2 linked regions of the Homo sapiens genome follow. The protein of the gene in region 2 interacts with the protein of the main gene of each other region in a pairwise test. Each region holds a gene or a part of one and is shown on either strand. Other genes may lie near its edges. The genes, in order: DHX29 and PISD.

Region 1 (3,819 bases), on a different chromosome or scaffold from region 2:
CTCCTGACCTCAGGTGATCCACCTGCCTTGGCCTCCCAAAGTGTTGGGATTACAGGCGTGAGCCACCACGCCTGGCCTGGGATCATTCTTATACAGCAGTGTTTCTCAAAGTGTGCTCAGGAGGTCCTAAGGAACCTGAGACTTGTTTGCCAAGGGCTCCATGAAGTGAAAACTTTTCATAATAATTCTGAGATGTTTTTGCCATTTTTCACGCTCATTTTCTCATGATTATGCAGTGAGGTTGTCCAGTTGGCTACATGATGTGTAATGTTACGGCAGATTGAATGCAGAAGCTAGATGTTACGAACTGAATGTTTGTGTCCTCAAAAAATTAGTATGTTGAGACCCTTACCCCCAGTGTGGCTATATTTGGAGATAAGGGCTCTAAGGAAGTACATAAGGTTAAATGAGATCACAGGGATGGGGCCCTGATCCAACAGGATTAGTGTCCTTATAAAATGAGATACCCAAGAGAGCTCAGTTTCTCTGAGTAAGCACAGAGAAAAAAGCCATGTGAACATATAGCAAGATGATGGCCACCTACATGCCAAGAGAAGAGGCCTCAGAATGAAACCTCCCTTGCTGGTACCCTAATCTTGGACTTCCCAACCTCCAGAACTATGAGAAATAAATTTCTGATGGTGAAGCCATCCAGCAGTCTGTGGTATTTTGTTGTGGCAGTCTGAGCAGACTAAGATACCAGATATTAAAGAGATTTGCAAAAACGGATATTATTTTTTGTCTTGAAAAATATAGTCACATTTCATCTTAAGCATCATTTATATTAATGGAACAGGTTTATTTTTATTATTTTGTTGAGGTCCTTTTGTTTTTTTGAGACAGAGTCTCGCTCTGTCTCCCAGGCCAGAGTGCAGTGGTGCAGTCTCGGCTCACTGCAACCTCTGCCTCCTGGGTTAAAGCAGTTCTCCTGCCTCAGCTTCCCAAGTAGCTGGGATTACAGGCATGCATCACCAGGCCCAGCTAATTTTTGTATTTTTACTAGAAATGGGGTTTTGCCATATTGGCCAGGCTGGTCTCAAACTCCTGACCTCATGTGATCTGCCCGCCTCCGCGTCCCAAGTGCTGGGATTACAGGCATGAGCCACCACACCTGGCCTATTATTATTATTATTAGAGACAGGGTCTCACTCTGTTGCCCAGGCTGGAGTGCAGTGTTGCAGTCACAGCTCACTGTAGCTACTACTGCAGCCTTGAACTCCTGGGTTCAAGCAGTTTTCCTGCCTCAGCCTCTTGAGTACCTGGGACTTCAGACATGTGCTACCACAGCTGGATAATTTTTGTAGAGGCAAAGTCTCACTATATTGCCCAGACTGCTCTCAAACTCCTGGGCTCAAGAGATCCTCCTACCTCAGCCTCCCAAAGTGCTGGGATTACAGGCATGAGCCACTGCGCCTGGCCAGATTTATTATTTTTGGTGAATGAATGTTTTAAAATTTCCCTTTTAATTTATAATATACTAAGTATCAATAGACATAACCCACATAAACAAAAACTATTTGGATCCTCAGTAATTTTTAAGAGAGTAAGGGGTCATGAGACCAAAAGTTTGAAAATAATGTGTGTTGTTTCCTGGTTACTCATTGTTAAAGGACTGAGACTAGACAGCGTTTCTGTTCACTGGAACAGACTTGGCAACTGTAGTGGGTTGAGTGAGTAGTGTCCCCCCAAATATTCATGTCCACCTGGAACCTCAGAATGTGACCTTGTTTGGAAATAAGCTCTACAGATCTGTGGATCTTGAGATGAAATTATACTAGATTTAGGGTGATTCCTAAATCCAATAATGAATGTCAAGAGAAAGGAGAGGGACATTTGGACACAGAGAAAGGGAAGAAGGCCGTGTGAATGAGGAGGCAGAGACTGGTGTTATGCTGCCACCAGAAGCTGGAAGGGGGAAGGAACGATTCTTACCTAGAGCCTTCAGAGAGAGCATGGTCCTGCTCACACCATGATTTTGGAGTTCTAGCTTCCAGAATTGTGAGAGAATAAATTTCTGCTGTATTCAGCCATCAAGTTTGTGGTAATTTGTTATGGCAGCCCTAGGAAACTATAGCAACCCTGGACTTGAGTTCAAGGAGAAAAGATGATAGGAACTCCCACCTCCCTTTTCACTTAGCATACCACCTTCAAGAAAGAGTGCTTTCTCTTTAAAATTGTCCATCTACTCTGCCAACAATCATATCTTAGAAGTTTTGCCTCAGCTAAGTGCCAGGAGAAAAGCATCTGACTAAAAGATATGAGGATAAAGATAGATTTAACCTAAAAGATATGTAGGCATTTGCATTTTATGAGAAACTGGTTAACATGGAGTAATGCTAATTGGTAAAATGTTGAAAATTTAGAGAGGATATTGCTAGCTACTAGATTGAGTTATTTGGTGAAGTATTGGGGAAAAAAGCTGAAATCAAATATTTAATATTTAGCATTCTTTTTTTTTTTTTTTTTTTTTTTGAGACGGAGTCTCGCTCTGTCGCCCAGGCCGGACTGCGGACTGCAGTGGCGCAATCTCGGCTCACTGCAAGCTCCGCTTCCCGGGTTCACGCCATTCTCCTGCCTCAGCCTCCCGAGTAGCTGGGACTACAGGCGCCCGCCACCGCGCCCGGCTAATTTTTTGTATTTTTAGTAGAGACGGGGTTTCACCTTGTTAGCCAGGATGGTCTCGATCTCCTGACCTCATGATCCACCCGCCTCGGCCTCCCAAAGTGCTGGGATTACAGGCGTGAGCCACCGCGCCCGGCCTAATATTTAGCATTCTTTAGAGGAAAATTAAAATAATGTAATAGATATTAATCATTAAATTGCCTTGTCTATTTGTATTTACAGGTCCAAAAATTTATAGTTTTAATTCTACAAATGATTCTAGTGGTCCTGCAAATCTGGATAAATCTATTTTGAAAGTAAGTAACAAAGGTTTTGAGTCATTTCAAGAAATGTTTCCCCCTTTTTTCCCCCAAAAAAGATGTATCCTTAAATGTAAGAAAATGATGGGGTGTTTTAAATTTTTGTAAATAGTACTCTAAGAGCTAATCTCTACTAAAAATAAGTAAATCATACACATATGTTGAGAGACAGTAAGAAATGAAGGAAGGCCTGGTTAAGATCTAAACTTCTTAAGCATGGCATATACATTTTTTCAGGTCTGTCTTAGAATACCGTTTCACCCTCCTCTCTGCTACTCTGATCTCTACTTAATATTTTAGTTCATGGGACATCTCATGAATATCTCATTTGTTCTTCTAAATCCGTGATTTTACAACTTCTAGCTTTTACCCATGTACTCTCTGCGTAGAGTGCCCTTATTTCCCCTTTTTATTTGTCACCTCTGTGACCTCTATGAAGTCCTTTATCAACCGCCAAGTTGATTTTCTTGGTGGTTCTACTATTACTTGATATATCTTTTTTGAGAATTGCCATGCTGGGTTATAATTTGTCTCTTTATATATATTTTCTGGGCTAGACTGTGAATTTCTGAATTATATTTTTGTGCTTAGTTTATAGTAGGCATTTAGTTAAAAAGTAACAAAGGGAAGATATTTTTGTAAGTAGATGCTTGTGTACTCTTAGGTCAAAAATAACAAAAGAACAGAAAATAAAATGGCTAGTAGGAAAAAGTAGGAATCAAAGTCTAGAAGCCAAAAGAATTTGTGTAGCTTATTACGACATATTTAGTTTTCAGTTTTACTTGTTATACCCGTTTTTAGTATAGTGTTCATTCTTTTAGGTTGTGTGCTTGCAGTGGTTTACATTAAATCCCTCCAAGAATTCTGATTCAGTATGTTTGGGATAGAACTTAGGAAT
Region 2 (3,819 bases):
TTAAATATTTGTGGAGATAAATAAGGTCTTGCCATCTGGCCTAGGCTGGTCTCAAACTCCTGGATTCAAGTGATCCTCCCACCTCAGCCTCCCAAAGTTCTGGGATTACAGGCATGAGCCACTGCACCAGGCCAGGACTCGTTTTTGTTTTGTTTTGTTTTGTTTTTGAGATGCAGTCTCGCTCCGTCACCCAGGCTGGAGTTCAGTGGCGTGATCTCAACTCACTGCAACCTCCGCCTCCTGGGTTCAAGCAGTTCTTCTGCCTCAGCCTCCCAAGTAGCTGGGATTACAGGCACAAGCCACCACACCCAGCTAATTTTTGTGTTTTTTTAGTAGAGACAGGGTTTCGCCATGTTGGCCAGGCTGGGCTCGAACTCCTGACCTCAAGTGATCCACCCACCTTGGCCTCCGAAAGTGTTGGGATTACAGGCATGAGCCACTGCACCCAGCCCAGGACTCATTTTTAAGTCCTTTCTTTCTCATCATCCACATTCAATCCACTGGCAAGGCAATGAAAACTACCACTGGCCAGGCTCAGTGGCTCACGCCTGTAATCTCAGCACTTTGAGAGGCTGAGGCAGGTGGATCACCTGAGGTCGGGAGTTTGAGACCAGCCTCGCCAATATGGTAAAACCCCGTCTCCACTAAAAATACAAAAAACTAGCCAGCCAATATGGTGAAACCCCGTCTCTACTAAAAATACAAAAAATTAGACGGGTGTGATGGTGGTGGCCTATAATCCCAGCTACTTGGGAGACTGAGGCAGGAGAATTGCTTGAACCCAGGAGGTGGAGGTTGCAATGAGCCAAGATCACACCACTGCACTCCAGCCTGGGCATGACAGAGCGAGACTCTGTCTGAAAAAAACAAAAAAATAAAGGCCGGGCATGGTGGCTGACGCCTATGAGAACTCCCAGCACGTTGGAAGGCCAAGGTGGGCAGATCACGAGGTCAGGAGTTCGAGACCGGCCTGACCAACATGGTGAAACTCCATCTCTACTAAAAATACAAAAATTAGCCAGGTGTGGTGGTCGGTGCCTATAGTCCCAGCTACTCAGGACGCTGAGGCAGAAGAATTGCTTGAATCTGGGAGACGGAGGTTGCAGGGAGCCGAGATCGCACACTGCACTCCAGCCTGGGTGACAGAGCAAGACTGCGTCTCAAAAATAAATAAATAAATAAATAAATAAATAAATAAACAAAACAGAAAGACAAGATCCCACATCTTGTCAGCCTCTCAGATCTCTAGCTACTTTCCCTCTCTTCCTCCTCACTCACTCCTCTTGCCGCTCCTTGTCCACACCACATGTGCCCCTTTCCACACTCCTCCATTTGCTGTTTGCTATGCTGGGCACACCCCTCTCCTATGTGGCTCACTCCCACATCATTTAGTTCTCTGCTCAAATGTTACCTCCTCAGTGCAGTTTTTCCTGAGCACTGTATGCCCAAGAGTTGGCCCTCTTGAACACTAACTTCTTAATTTTTAAAAAAAATTTTTCTGGGTATGTAGTAGGCATATATATCTATGTGTTACATGAGCTAGTTTGATACAGGCACGCAATATGGAATAATCACATTAGGTAAATGGGATATCTATCCCCTCAAGCATTTAAGCTTTGTGTTACAAACAATCCAGTTATACTCTTTTAGTGTTTTGTTTTGTTTTTTTGAGATGGAGTTTTGCTCTGTCGCCCAGGCTGGAGTGCAGTGGCATGATCTCAGCTCACCGCAACCTCCGCCTCCTGGGTTCAAGCAATTCTCTGCCTCAGCCTCCCGAGTAGCTGGGATTACAGGCACCCACCACCATGCCTGGCTAATTTTTTGTATTTTTAGTAGAGATGGGGTTTCACCTTCTTGGCCAGACTGATCTTGAACTCCTGACCTCGTGATCCACCCGCCTCAGCCTCCCAAAGTGCTGGGATTACAGGCGTGAGCCACCGCACCCAGCCTTTTAGTTATTTTTAAATGTAATAATTTTAAATTATTTTTGACAATAGTCACCCTGTTGTGCTAGCAAACACTAGGTCTTATTCATTTTATTTTATATATTTTTTTGAGATGGCATCTTGCTCTGTTGCCCAGGCTGGAGTGCAATGGCGCAATCTCAGCTCACTGCAACCTCTGACTCCCAGGTTCAAGGAATTCTCCTACCTCAGCCTCCTGAGTAGCTGGGATTACAGGAGCACACCACCACACCCGGCTAATTTTTTTTTGTAGTTTTAGTAGTGACAGGGTTTGTTGGCCACGCTGGTGTTGAACTCCTGACCTCAGGTGATCCACCCGCCTGGGCCTCCAAAGTGCTGGGATTACAGGCGTGAGCCACTGCACCCAGCCCATTTTATTTTTTTGATACCCATTAACCATCCCCATTTCTTCCCATCCCCCCACTACCCTTTCCAGCTTCTGGTAACCATCCTTCTACTATCTCCATGAGTTCAACCGTTTTAATTTACAGCTCCCACAAATAAGTGAGAACATGCAAAGTTTGTCTTTCTGTTGAGCACTAACTTCTTAATTATCTTGCTTTCTTTTTCTTCATGGCATTTCTTATTACACAAAATGAATGGATTCTGCATGTATTCAGTTATTTGTTTACTGTATGTATACCTCGATGAACACGGGGTTTATCTGTGTTCTCACTGGCCTTCAATCTCAATAGTGACAGTATGCCCCAGAAAGATGAATGGATGGGTTCAAACAGATGTCTCTTCTACATGCATTCTACATCGCATCCTTCAAGTAGGCAATTAAAGCCCACAATTGAGCACTCCAGTCTGCCTGTGCAACTCAAATCTCAGCGCTGCCACTTCTTAGCAGCTGTGTGACCTTAGGAAATTTCTTAACTAATCTTAAGCCTCAGTTTCTCCACCTGCAAAAACAAAACTCACCTCATTAGAAGACAATCATGCAAAACCTTAGCTCAGGGCCTGGCACCTAGTTAGACTGTTATTATTAAGAGTTGATATTCAGCTGACATACACTGAGATGGTCATATCAATCATCTATGACCAGCATTCACTCTCACTAGTCTGTCTCCATGGCATCCTGGTTATAAGTTTGTTTGTTTGTTTGTTTGTTTTTTGAGACAGGGTCTCACTCTGTCACCCAGGCTGGAATGCAGTGGTGAAATCACAGCTCACTGCAGCCTCGACCTCCTGGGCACAAGTGAACCTCCCACCTTAGCTTCCCAAGTAGCTGGGACCACAGATGTGCACCCAGCCATTTTTTGCGGAGAGGAGGTCTCACTATGTTGCTCAGGTTGGTCTCGAACTCTTGGGCTCAAGCAATTCTCCTGCCTCAGCCTCCCAAAGTGTTGAGATTACAGACATAAGCCACCACACCTGGCCAGTTGCACTATTTTTTCTTTTTCTTTTTTTTTTTTTTTTGAGACAGGGTCTCACTCTGTTGCCCAGGCTGGAGTGCAGTGGCATGATCTTGGCTCACTGCAGCCTCAACCTCCTGGGCTCAGGCAATCCTCCTACCTCAGCCTCCCAGGTGGCTGGGACTACATGTATGCACCACTATGACCAGCTAATTTTTGTGTTTTTTGTACAGATGGGTTTTTGCCATGTTGCCCAGGCTGGTCTTGAACTCCTGAGCTCATGCAATCCACCCGCCTTAGCCTCCCAAAATGCTGGGATTACAGGCATGAGACACCACGCCCAGGCCTAAGACATTTTTAACATCACCCCTAGTAGTAACATTTTGCCTATAGTCCTTATGTCTCCCTTGCTTTCTAAAGCTGTGAAAGTTCTCCTAAAACAGAACGGACAGACCTCTTGAAGGCTTTATCCCGTATTCCACCATGTATTACAAGTA

What was found.
Region 1: the proteins of PISD (region 2) and DHX29 interact in a two-hybrid assay, tested with the Homo sapiens proteins (one large-scale study listed by BioGRID and IntAct).

The regions. Positions count from the first base shown.
Region 1 is NC_000005.10:55,297,690-55,301,508, reverse strand, and holds part of DHX29 (ATP-dependent RNA helicase DHX29), read left to right. Parts: intron 1-2,844; coding exon 2,845-2,918; intron 2,919-3,819. UniProt on the Homo sapiens protein: ATP-binding RNA helicase involved in translation initiation. Part of the 43S pre-initiation complex that is required for efficient initiation on mRNAs of higher eukaryotes with structured 5'-UTRs by promoting efficient NTPase-dependent 48S complex formation.
Region 2 is NC_000022.11:31,655,486-31,659,304, forward strand, and holds part of PISD (phosphatidylserine decarboxylase proenzyme, mitochondrial), read right to left. Parts: intron 1-3,819. UniProt on the Homo sapiens protein: Catalyzes the formation of phosphatidylethanolamine (PtdEtn) from phosphatidylserine (PtdSer). Plays a central role in phospholipid metabolism and in the interorganelle trafficking of phosphatidylserine.